Homo sapiens: one gene and its partners. The protein of the gene in region 2 purifies or fractionates together with the protein of the main gene of each other region. This does not show direct contact. Each region holds a gene or a part of one and is shown on either strand. Other genes may lie near its edges. The genes, in order: ATP2B4, LGALS9 and SORL1.

Evidence for each region.
Region 1: the proteins of LGALS9 (region 2) and ATP2B4 purify together in Homo sapiens (affinity purification with mass spectrometry; 4 studies listed by BioGRID and IntAct, with this or other methods). This does not show direct contact.
Region 3: the proteins of LGALS9 (region 2) and SORL1 purify together in Homo sapiens (affinity purification with mass spectrometry; 3 studies listed by BioGRID and IntAct, with this or other methods). This does not show direct contact.

What each region holds. Positions count from the first base shown.
Region 1 is NC_000001.11:203,629,783-203,633,431, forward strand, and holds part of ATP2B4 (plasma membrane calcium-transporting ATPase 4), read left to right. Parts: intron 1-3,649. UniProt on the Homo sapiens protein: Calcium/calmodulin-regulated and magnesium-dependent enzyme that catalyzes the hydrolysis of ATP coupled with the transport of calcium out of the cell. By regulating sperm cell calcium homeostasis, may play a role in sperm motility.
Region 2 is NC_000017.11:27,629,551-27,633,299, forward strand, and holds the start of LGALS9 (galectin-9), read left to right. Parts: upstream 1-1,637; 5' UTR 1,638-1,715; coding exon 1,716-1,754; intron 1,755-3,749. UniProt on the Homo sapiens protein: Binds galactosides. Has high affinity for the Forssman pentasaccharide. Ligand for HAVCR2/TIM3. Binding to HAVCR2 induces T-helper type 1 lymphocyte (Th1) death.
Region 3 is NC_000011.10:121,630,269-121,634,017, reverse strand, and holds the end of SORL1 (sortilin-related receptor preproprotein), read right to left. Parts: 3' UTR 255-3,749; downstream 1-254. UniProt on the Homo sapiens protein: Sorting receptor that directs several proteins to their correct location within the cell. Along with AP-1 complex, involved Golgi apparatus - endosome sorting.

The DNA of each region.
Region 1 (3,649 bases), on a different chromosome or scaffold from region 2:
CACCAAGTCTCTAGATTCAAGGTCAAGTCAAAGGAGCACAGCCCGTCTTACCCCTGGGACTCCCAGCGCCCAGCACGGAGCCTGGGATGTTAGAGCGCTGGGTCAAGGCATGTTGAGAGAAGCACGGGCAGTTTGGGGGCCTTGGAATCAGCCTGACGCCAGCGAGTTCCTAACCCGCCGTCTGGCCTCCAGTTTCCCCTCTGCACAATGGAAAGCCTGCTCTCCACGGTAGAGGTGACAGGGCGTGGCTAGGCAGATTTGTCACACTGCTGTGGTCTTTGTCAGAAGAAAATCAAAATGAGAGGGCCCAGTTAGGGGCAGAAGGAGAGCAGTTAGAATTTGCCGAAGGTGTGGGGGCTGGAAGAGGTAAGGTGATGTGTAGGGGCTGGATGTCCTGGGCCAGGATATCGGGAGGCTTTACTCTTCCCCACTCCCACTAACCGGAGGTCCCGAGAGGAACGGGGTCTGGGCTGCTCCCTGCCACCTGTCAGCAGGTCAAGCCTTCCACCGGAAACTGCCCCTTATTCAAGAATTTAGCTTCTCTCAAAAACTCCGAAACCCCTTTTCTCTCTCTCTCTCTCTCTCTCTTTTTTTTTTTTTTTTTTCAATGCTCCTGGCCTTGGACCCAGCACCCAAAGACATGGATTAGCCCTATCCACTAGGACAGAGCATTGCAGACCCACTAAGCCTTGGAGAGAGAAAAGGATCTTGTTCATTCTTAGTCCCCAGAATGACCAAGACAAACCCCGTTAGCCAAACCCCTAAAAAACTGTTTGGCTTAGGTTAGATTAGCTCCAAGTGTTTGACCTTGAAGGGGAACACCCCACCCAGAGTCTTAACTATCCTTCTCTGGAAGGATTCTTCAGGCAATCTGAATTCTTCCCCCGAAGGGCGCCCCTCAGACAAGGCTCCCTACCCAGCCCAGTTCCCTGCTTCTCAGATAAGCATTGATTCCTGTCATCCCAGTGGGTATTTGGTGGGTAGGGGTGAGAAGGAAAGAGGGATGAGAAAAGCAAGGCCTCTGCCTTGTCAGACTGGGATGACAACCTTTCTCCACTCATGTCCCCTTTTCTGCAGGTCATAGGATTAGAGCAGGCCCTGGGGCTGGAGTCCAAAATGCTTGTGTGGAATGTTTTGCCCTTGGCTTCCTCTGCCAGTATCTCTCCTTGTGTCCTCTTTCCTCTTTCCCTTGTGTGAGCCATTCTTGTTCCACTGACTTATTTCCTCTGTACATGTTAAAACAGAAATGACAGGGACTTTCTATTTCTGCCTCTACCTTAAGCCAGTCCTCTGTGTTCAGCCTACATGAACTTGAGTTGAGGAGGGAAACCAGGCAGGATCTAGTGAGGACCAGAGCCAAGGGCTCTGGGTCAGGGAAGAGGCTTGAGAGGCAGTCTATGTGTGAAGGATAGTGGAGAGGCCAAAGGAAAGGAAAGGATTGAGAACATAGGTGCCAAGGGGCAGAGCCCCCATTTCTACCTTTCCTCACCCCAGTTCCTCTCTGCCTAAGATCCTCAGCCTCATTACTCACCTCTGCTCTAGTTTCCCAAGTTTCATGCACAAATCCCTGGGACAACTCAGGGAAGATGAACTGGGATGGGATTACTAAGACCCCCTTCCTCTTGCCTTTCTGCCACTTCACTTGGGGTGTGGCAAAGGGAGTTTGGAGCAGTGCGTTTATTGGTAGGAAGGTCAGGGACTCTCAGCTAGGTTCAAGGAAAGTCTTAGCTTAGAACACCTCATGGCAAGGTCTACCTAGGTTGCGAAATCAATGCCAGGAATACAAACAAGTAGTATACCCTCAATACTAACAGCCCATCTAACATCCCAGGCTCCGTGCTGGGCGCTGGGAGTCCCAGGGGTAAGACGGGCTGTTAGTATTGAGCCCGGGAAGTTAGCAATATCTAACAAAGCTACGTACACATTTACCCAGCAATCCTACGTCTAGGAATTTATCCAGAAGGTGCTCATTCACAAATATGGAAAGCTACGTACAAGGTGATTTTTGTTTGTTTGTTTGTTTGTTTTTTGAGACAGAGTCTCGCTCTGTCGCCCAGGCTGGAGTGCAGCGGCGCGATCTCAGCTCACTGTAAGCTCTGCCTTCCGGGTTCAAGCAATTCTCCTGTCTCAGCCTCGTGAGTAGCTGGGATTACAAGTGCTAGCCACCACACCGGCTAATTTTTTGTATTTTAATAGAGATGGGGTTTCACCGTGTTGCCCAGGCTGGTCTCAAACTCCTGAGCTCAGGCAATCTACCTGCCTGAGCTGGGATTATAGGTGTGAGCCACCAAGCCCAGCCACAAGGTGGTTTTTAAAGGCATATTTACAATAGGAAATCATTGGAAACTATCCAAATGCCCATTCTTTAAAAAATGGTTAAACAAACAATGGTACAGTCCATACAATAGAATCCTAGGTAGCCAAAAAGAAAAAAAAAAGAATGACTAGGAGCCCTGTGAACTTATATGACATGATTGTTAGGATATATTATTAAGTGAAAAAACCAAGACATAGTACAGTATATAGTATGCCACCTTTGGGATAAGAAAGCAGGAGAAGTAAGAAATTTTTTTTTTTTTGAGACAGAGTCTCGCTCTGTTGCCCAGGCTGGAGTGCGGTGGTGGGATCTCGGCTCACTGCAAGCTCTGCCGCCCGGGTTCACGCCATTCTCCTGCCTTATCTTCCTGAGTAGCTGGGACTACAGGCGCCTGCCACCACGCCCGGCTAATTTTTTGTATTTTTAGTAGAGACAGGGTTTCACCATGTTAGCCAGGATGGTTTCGATCTCCCGACCTCATGATCCGCCCACCTCAGCCTCCCAAAGTGCTGGGATTACAGGCGTGAGCCACCACGCCTGGCCTAATTTAAGTACTTTTTAACCTTCATTCCCTGATTCTATATTCATATTTTAAGTAAAAAAAAAAAAAAAAACCACCTACAAAGAAATCTTGACCTTTACTTTGTAGACATGTTATTGGTTGTGGTATTTGTGTCATAAATTGGAAACTGTTTCGTTTATTGTATGATAGATGAAATGAGTAACTATGGTGATATTTCTGGAAATCAGGGTCTCACTATGGAAAAAGAGAGATATAAGTATGGAATGGGGGAAGGGGAAAAAGAATCTTTCGGGGTTTTTTTGTATATCTTGTGGGTCTGTCCACTGAAAGGACTGTGGAAAGGAACACACCTAGTACCTGGATTTTTATTTCTAAGTACAACTTCCCACGGGGGAGGTTGTAAGGAACAGTGCTCCTTGAAAAAATGACTAATTTCAAGTCTGAGACTGGGAAAGTATAAGTGAACTGTGTTGTGCCAGAAACTAGAGCATGCTCATGTCATGACATGTTGTCACAGGAGCTGGCTTAAAGGGTCTCCCGCCAACCAGAGGTGAAACACATTAAGCATTCCAAAGGATAATGGTAATAGATTGTAACACATTGAATATTAAAAATTCCTTGAGTCTATTTTGACAGTTGACATGGACAGGGAGGAGCAGGGAGGGAAAACTCTGAACAGAAATGCCAACGAGGCCAGACACAAGGCCTCACTCTGTAATCCTACCACACTGGGAGGCCAGGGCAGGAGGATCGCTGGAGCCCAGGCGTTTGAGGCTCCCATGAGCTCTGATCATGACACTGCACTCTAG
Region 2 (3,749 bases):
TTAGAAGTAGAAAAGCCAGAACATAGAAGTAGATATTTGACTGTATTACAACTCACCAAGCAGTTTTTCTTTTTATTTTTTATTTTTCAATTTTTTGAGACAGAGTCTTGCTCTATTACCCAGGCTGGAGTGCAGTGGCGTGATGAGGGTTCACTACAGCCTTGACCTCCTGGGGTCAAGTGAGCCTCCCACCTCAGCCTCCCATGTAGCTGAGACCACAGGTGTGCACCACCACACCTGGCTAATTTGTTTGTTAAATTATATGTAGGGACAGGGTCTTCCAACCTTTCCCGAGCTGGTCTCAAGCTCCTGGGCTGAAGTGATCCTCCTGCCTCAGCCTCTCAAAGTGCTGGTATTATAGGCATAAGCCACCACGCCCTGCCCATTTTTCTAAGTTGGATTATTTTACACTCCAGTCTGCTGTGAATGAGAGTTCCAGTTGTTGCGTATCGCAATCAATTTGTGATTGCCTACAAATGATGTGCCGTGATGAAATTGTCCCTGGTGTCCGAGAGGATCGCAAAGAATTTCCCTTCCTTTCTCTCCTTTCTGCTCCCCTTGTACTGTCTACTCCTTAAACTGGTACTTGATCCAGGAACATAATGGGGATGGACAGTGCAGATGGCACACATGGCCTCAGTCTATTGGAGCATCTCAAAGGAATTAGTCTGCAAATTCTAGTGCATCTAGGTGGAGCACAGGAAGGAAGAGAGGTGCAGACTCACGTATGGCCCTGGGGCACCTGCCATCCTCTCGCACCCGTACAGCCCTTACCTGCCAGCACTTACCCTACCCAGCTTGAGTTCTGGGCCTTCTCACCAGCACATCGCTGGGACCTGGTCGACTTCAGGTAAGTTTATTTCATGGCTCCCTCCCCCACGACCTGCACATGCCATATGTTCCTTCCCAGCCCCATGTCACTTGAAATGTTCTATCATGTCCAAGACTTCTCTCCTCATCCTAAAGTGCAGAAAATAAGGATGGAGAAGAGAAGGAGAAGAGAATCAAGAGAGATTCATTGAGAGGGAGGATCAGAAGCTCCTGGGCACCCCATACTGTAGAATAAAAATATTCATTATGGTGTTTTTCTTGCAAAATATTCCCCTCTACATAATTATGTTTTTACATGAATAATATAAATTTAAACAGGAGAAATACTTTTTGAAGAGTCTGAGAATCTTCATAAAGTTCAGGCGGCCACGAATTAGCTGTGTGACCTGGGGCATGCCCCTTAGACTCTGAGCCTCAGCTTCTCTGTATGTAAAATGGGTTGAAGCCGCCCTTCCCCACAAGCACCCTGTGCACAGGCAATGCCCAGCCCCATTATTTTCTGGACTCCGTGGCCAAGCATGCTTAGGACACACAGCCACATACTTCTGGGCAGTGTCATCTGGCAACTTGCTGTCATGTCAGTGTGGTCAAGCATTGTAGACCTCTATGAACCAAATATGCTTCAGGCTTGGGTTGAGCACAGGAGAGGGAGGAGGGAAAGGTCACTGGGGCTGGGAGTGCCTACTTCCCTCTGTGAGTGTCACCCCAGTCCACCCAGTACCATACCTTTCTCTCTCTGGACCCACTTCCTTTTGCTGCCGGCTCCTCCCCATTGAATAACAGCCAAGTTGCTTTGGTTTCTATTTCTTTGTTAAGTCGTTCCCTCTACAAAGGACTTCCTAGTGGGTGTGAAAGGCAGCGGTGGCCACAGAGGCGGCGGAGAGATGGCCTTCAGCGGTTCCCAGGCTCCCTACCTGAGTCCAGTGAGTTCCAGGGCTATGGGCACAGGGCTGCCTCAGCCAGAGGGACACAGCTCTGGGGCTCTGAGGAAGCAACTCCTGGGTGGCAGGGGATGGGGGTGGGGGCATCCCAAAGAGAACACAAGCAGGGCAGAAATATCAGAGGAGGTCATCCTGGCACACCTGTGCCGTGCTGAGCTCACTCATGCCTGGAGGGATGCTCCTTCCCACGAGTCATGGCTTTGACAGTGTTGACTGAGCTGTCCTGTCCTGTCCTGTCCTGTGTGCTCAGGGGAAGACATGTAGAGCGGGGTGGTTCATGTAAAGAGGAAGCAAGCACGCTTCTGGGACAGTAAGGACGCTACCCGGCATGGTAGTTAAGGGTGCTTACTGTGAAGGTGGCCTCCCTGGGTCCAGCTATTTACTGGCTGGTGGTCTCTGGGCCTCAGTTTCCATATCTGTGAAGTGGGAATAATACTTGAGCCCCCCACTCCCAGGGTTGGGATATGGATTAAGGAAGTAGTGTATCTAGTGTGTTTGAACAGTGCCTGACACACTGTAGGTGCTTTGGGAGTGTTTCATGTTATTGGGTGTCTGAGGGCAGCAGGGAAGACCTCCCGAGGAGGTGTCTGTGCTCTGAAGGTTGGGCATGGGCATGTTCAGGGCATCTGTGGAGGGGCAGTCTCAGAGGTGAGAGGGGGGTGAGGACTGTCCCTGCAGCGTGGGGTCAGAGGGCGGCAGGTGCCTTGCTGAAACCCTGTGAGGTTTATGAGTCCCCTTCATACACGGAAAATCTGAGGCTCAGGGAGGCAGAGGCCAGTTGCCAAATGCCTCCAGATGGGAGTGGCAGCCCCAGGAGCCCAGGAGACTTCAGGGGTCACTGTGTCCTGGGCCGGCTCCTGTCATAGGATCTCACCCCGCCTTGGCAAAGAGCTTCCCGAGGGGCTGGAGAGGGTGGGCTGATGGGTCCTTCCTGGGTGGGGAGGCAGGGTGGGGAGGGTGGGCAGAGGCAGGGTACTGAGGGAGGGAAGCTGCCATGGCCCACCTCAGCAGAGGCCAGGGTCGGGCTTGAGTGCCCCCTGGTGACACTGAGTCCAGAATGAGGCTGCCTACGTTCTGGTCTGCAGAGCTCGGCTCTGCTTTCTAAACTCCAGAGAGAAAGAATGGGGAAAGGAGGCCTGTTTCCTCCTGGCTGTCACCAATGACACCTCAGCCACCCTGTGGAGGCCCCTGAGGTAGGACCTGCACAGAGGGGGCTGGGGGAAGCTGGAACAGGCCGCTGGTGGGGGCCTTAGGGTCAGCAGGTGCTGCCTTGGGCATGTCACCCTGTCTCTGGTTTTCTGTCAAAGAGGGGATCCCAGAGCTTCTTCCAGGTTCTGACATATTATTATTCTGGTGACTGGTTTTTACTTTCTAATCCTTGGATTCAGAAGGAAAATTATCCTACGGACATCAGAGAGTTAAAACAGGGCCTTGGAGTCCAGACAAGAAAGATGATCAGTGCAGCCCCTATGGGTGTCCAGAGTACCCCTCTACCCCACGGGGGCTCCCCTGGGTTGGGACAATTAAGCCTCACTTGGTGACCCATCTGGCAGTCGGAGCCACGCTTCCTCCACATGCCGACAGTGGGGGAAGGTCACGCGGTTCGCTGTCCTGCTGAGGAGGGCTGAGTGCCATGAGGGCCTGGCTTGGAAACCTCACTCCCACTTCTTGTCTGGCCTCATCTAGCCCAGCCTCTTTGGAGGGCCTGGGGGAAGCTGGAACCACGTGCTGTGTGGTCCAGGAAGCACTGGGAGAGCCAGGAATAAGGATGTTCTCAGCTTACTCATGAGAGGAAGCCTGTGTGGTGGTTAGAAGCGTGGGTGCTGGGGTTCAAATCCCAGCTCTGTTGCTGACCAGTTGTGTAACTTTGAGCAAGTGACTGAACTTTTCTGTGCCTCAGTTTCCTCATCTGTAAAAGTGGCCGGGGTTGCTGTGAGGATAAATGTTCCTAGTCATGCCCAGAGCCCTCATGGACAC
Region 3 (3,749 bases), on a different chromosome or scaffold from region 2:
TGCCTTCTTAGCAAACTGTCTCTTAGCAAATGTAGTTACAAATTTAAGGGAGCCACTTTAGTCATTGTCCCTACGGAATAATTCTGTTTACTTCAAAACAGCCAGCACATCTTCCCCCTCCTCAACCAACACAAAGACATCGTGTTCTTCAAGGATCCACCATCTGAGACCAGCTTGTTAATAACAAAATTATTCCAGGCCTTGGTGTTCTCTCATCTATGAAATAAACATCCGTTTAAAACAGACCAATCAAATGGGGTTTGGAGACTGCGTCAGCCATCTTTATTGCGCTCTAAAGAACAGCTCGAGACACACAGAGACAGTGGATTTTCAAAGAGGTGTTTTCTTGACCCAGTTAAATTTTTATTCAGTGAAAAAAGTTGACATTGAGACAAAAATTATCTTAAAGTTGTGCAACAATACAGTAAAACCTTCAGCAGATTTCAGTGACTTGGAAACTTATCGAGGCAATTGAAATTATAAATACTTAATTTCGCTTTGGAGAGAAACAAGTATACAGTGTTTCACTTTAAATAAGAGTAGAATAGGCCTTTATTTTGCCGCAAATACTTTTGATTTTGCCTAAAGTTTCTAATAGTTCATAACAAGAGTCTTTAAATGAGAAGTGACATAGAATATTTGAGGATAATGGTCCACTCCAGCATTCATGCTTATTCCATTTGAGCTATTACACATGAAACTCATACCATTCTTGGGTTATTACTTGGCTGTGACGATTTAATTCATAATATGGCTGCTCAAAATTAGTGGGCAGAAACATACATACAACCCATCCTCCCTCAACCCATTTTCGGTGCTGGTACTCCATCTGAAAACACACTTACTGTCCATGTACCCAGCAGTACATATCTCTTCCTATCTATTCCATATCTCAGTCTTGCATAGAAAGTAGTCTATATAAACTTAATGCACTGGCTTTTATTACACAAAAATTGTACCTGAAAGGCAGCACACACTCCAGTTAAGAAAAATAACACAACAGGAATGTCAAGATACAATCCCAACACAAGATTCTGCACAGAGTTTTAGAGTCAATTCCTAAAATCAATATGGGATGATATTCAGTTTAGTTATGTCTCTGGATGCCTTCTCTAAGGGACTCATCCAACTGTCTGCAGAAGGAAGAAAATTTTCAGGAATTCCCCATGACTCCCTTCATGAAGAAGGGACTGACCAAACCTGATAGGATGGTGTTTCTGCCCTAAGGAAGTGTACTGGAAATATAATCTTACTAGATGCAGTGACCACTTGGTAAGCATCTGAAGGCAGCATTCGCCAAGAAGGAGTAGGCGCTCATCTCTAAGGGGCTCACCATACTATTGCTCTCCCAAGCTTCCCCTGAAAATGGCCAGTTCTGAGAAGGGTTACATTCCCTAAATTGCTGAGTACAGCTTCATCTAGTGGGCCAAACATGATGGGCAGGAGAGAACAGGCAGCTGTGTGTCTTCTGTCTGTCCCACCCAAATATCCCTGGTGATGCTACCAAAGACAGAACCCCAGGAATTACTTGTCCAAAAGTCAGAGTTTCAACCAGTTACCCAGAATGATAACTATTTACCCAGCTTGTCAAGGTAGCCAGTAGTTCCTGGAGCTTCTCACCTGTCTGGAACTAGGACTGCACAGACATGGCCTCTTCCTGGAATCCTCTGTAGAACTCCACTCTCTAACATTTTATCCATGTGGACTCGTATCTCATAAAGCTCAAGGGGCATTCAATACATCCAGGAGTAAAATCGGTTTCCAGAGAAAACTCATAAGCAAACCCCCTGCCCACCAATTTTTAGAGGCCCATCGTGGTCCACATGGATGCAAGCATCTGACATTCTAATGTATGCCAGGAGAGAATAAAACCTTTTTCCTGCACAGTGTGAACTTCTGAGGTGGCATCTCCAACAAGGTACAAAAGCCCCTTCTTCACAAGCAAGCAGGGACTCCGATTGGTCACAGTGAAGACAGTTATGTGGTCACCTTCAGAGGCTGCCTGTAGTACAAGGCATTTGTTTTCATTTTCTATTGGCACTCCAACCTCTGGATTCTTTCAGACAGCATATATACATGAAATCCCCACAAAGCTACACAGAGGGAAACAGGAGTGTGTGCTTCAAAAGTTCATAAAAATATACAATTTACATATAGCTGCAGCTATCTAGCTTAGTCTTCAGGAACTTAGCTCTTCTGTTTATATAAAATACTCTAGCCCTAAAAGGCTGCTTTTTTTCAAACAGCACAGTGGCATTTTCCAAGGAGAGGGGTGATGGCCAGTCTACAGTACTGTGCACTAAGCATTGGGAGGCACTGGTAGCTAGAACCGGATGCTCGGAAATATCTCAAGCTGCCAACTGGAGACATATGCTCTGTAAAAAGGCTTGCCTATGGAATAACTGAAAATAACATCTCAGAGCCTTTTATATCAGCTTTTACAAATGCCACCAAAAAGTTGGCAGAAAAAGAAAAGAAAATACACTTCCTAGTGGTTCAATTAAATGACTTGCCTCCCACCAGGTTGTTAATGATTCAACTATTTAAAGAGCTTATTAAAGGGGAGGTGGTAGGGCTTAGAGTTTTGAACAAATCTCTACGGTAAGACAAGATAAAGCCAAAAAAAATTCCAGTCTTTAAAAAAAAAAACTTAGGAAAGTGACAGGAAAGAAGAGAAAATACGCTAGAAGAAGGCTTATCATTACCACCAGTTGTTAACATGAAATACAGTCCTACCCGTATGGCAAACTAAAGGTCGACAGCTTAAAATACTCATCTAAGTATACATATAAATAAAAATTTCAAAAACTAAAAAATTTAATTGGCTCTTTCTTTGTTTTCTAAACAATCCCTAAGTAGAATGAAACTATATTATCACCCAAGAATGATACTTGTGGTTAAAAGAAACTAAACACTTGTGAGAAGGTGATGCCTCGCACCTAAGCGGGGATGGGGTTTTACAAAGCTTGCACGTCAAGGACACATATTCAGAGACATGACTTTGGAATATTCCCAGACCTCACTGCTTCTTGGCTGAAAGGAAATTCTTCAGTGAGAATCATACAGCACAAGTCACAACGATGCTCGACATTGGTGCCCACAACACTAAGCCTAAATAAAGGGCTTGCATCAGCCCACGATGGATTCTACATAAGTATCAAGTGGCCATGGTTTGAATACACGGGTGGCATTTTAAAGGCAGAAGAAAAAAAGCACAGCTTGTTTTACAGAGAGAATAAATGAACAAACTCTAGTGCTCCTGCTGTTGTTAACTGGATTGAGTAGTCTCAACTTTTTAGATCTTCTCTATCTCTATGAGAATGTACAGCACTGTCTCTTTAGATTGGGTGGGGGCATGGGTGAGGGAGATGGAAGAAGAGGAGAAAAAAAAAGAGAAGGCACTGTCCAATTCAAAATGACTGCATATATCAGTATGGATTTTTAAGGACAATAAGTGGCCATCTCAAACCAAATACATAATTTTACATCTGAGATCCTTCAGTAGTAAGTAAAAACAAAAAATGGAAAATGGAAAAATTATGTACTCTATTAGCCAGTGTATGGATCATGGCACAGATCTAGAACTCTCCCCCACAACCAGGGTAAGTTTTTGCAATGACAATGAAACCAGTGTGTAATAAAGCAGTGTTATCATTTTGTAGCTCTCAAAGCTACATCTTGTACAGAGGCACATACAGTAAAATTCCATCAATTAATATAAGAGAGGAAGCTGTGGGCTTACAGGGCTT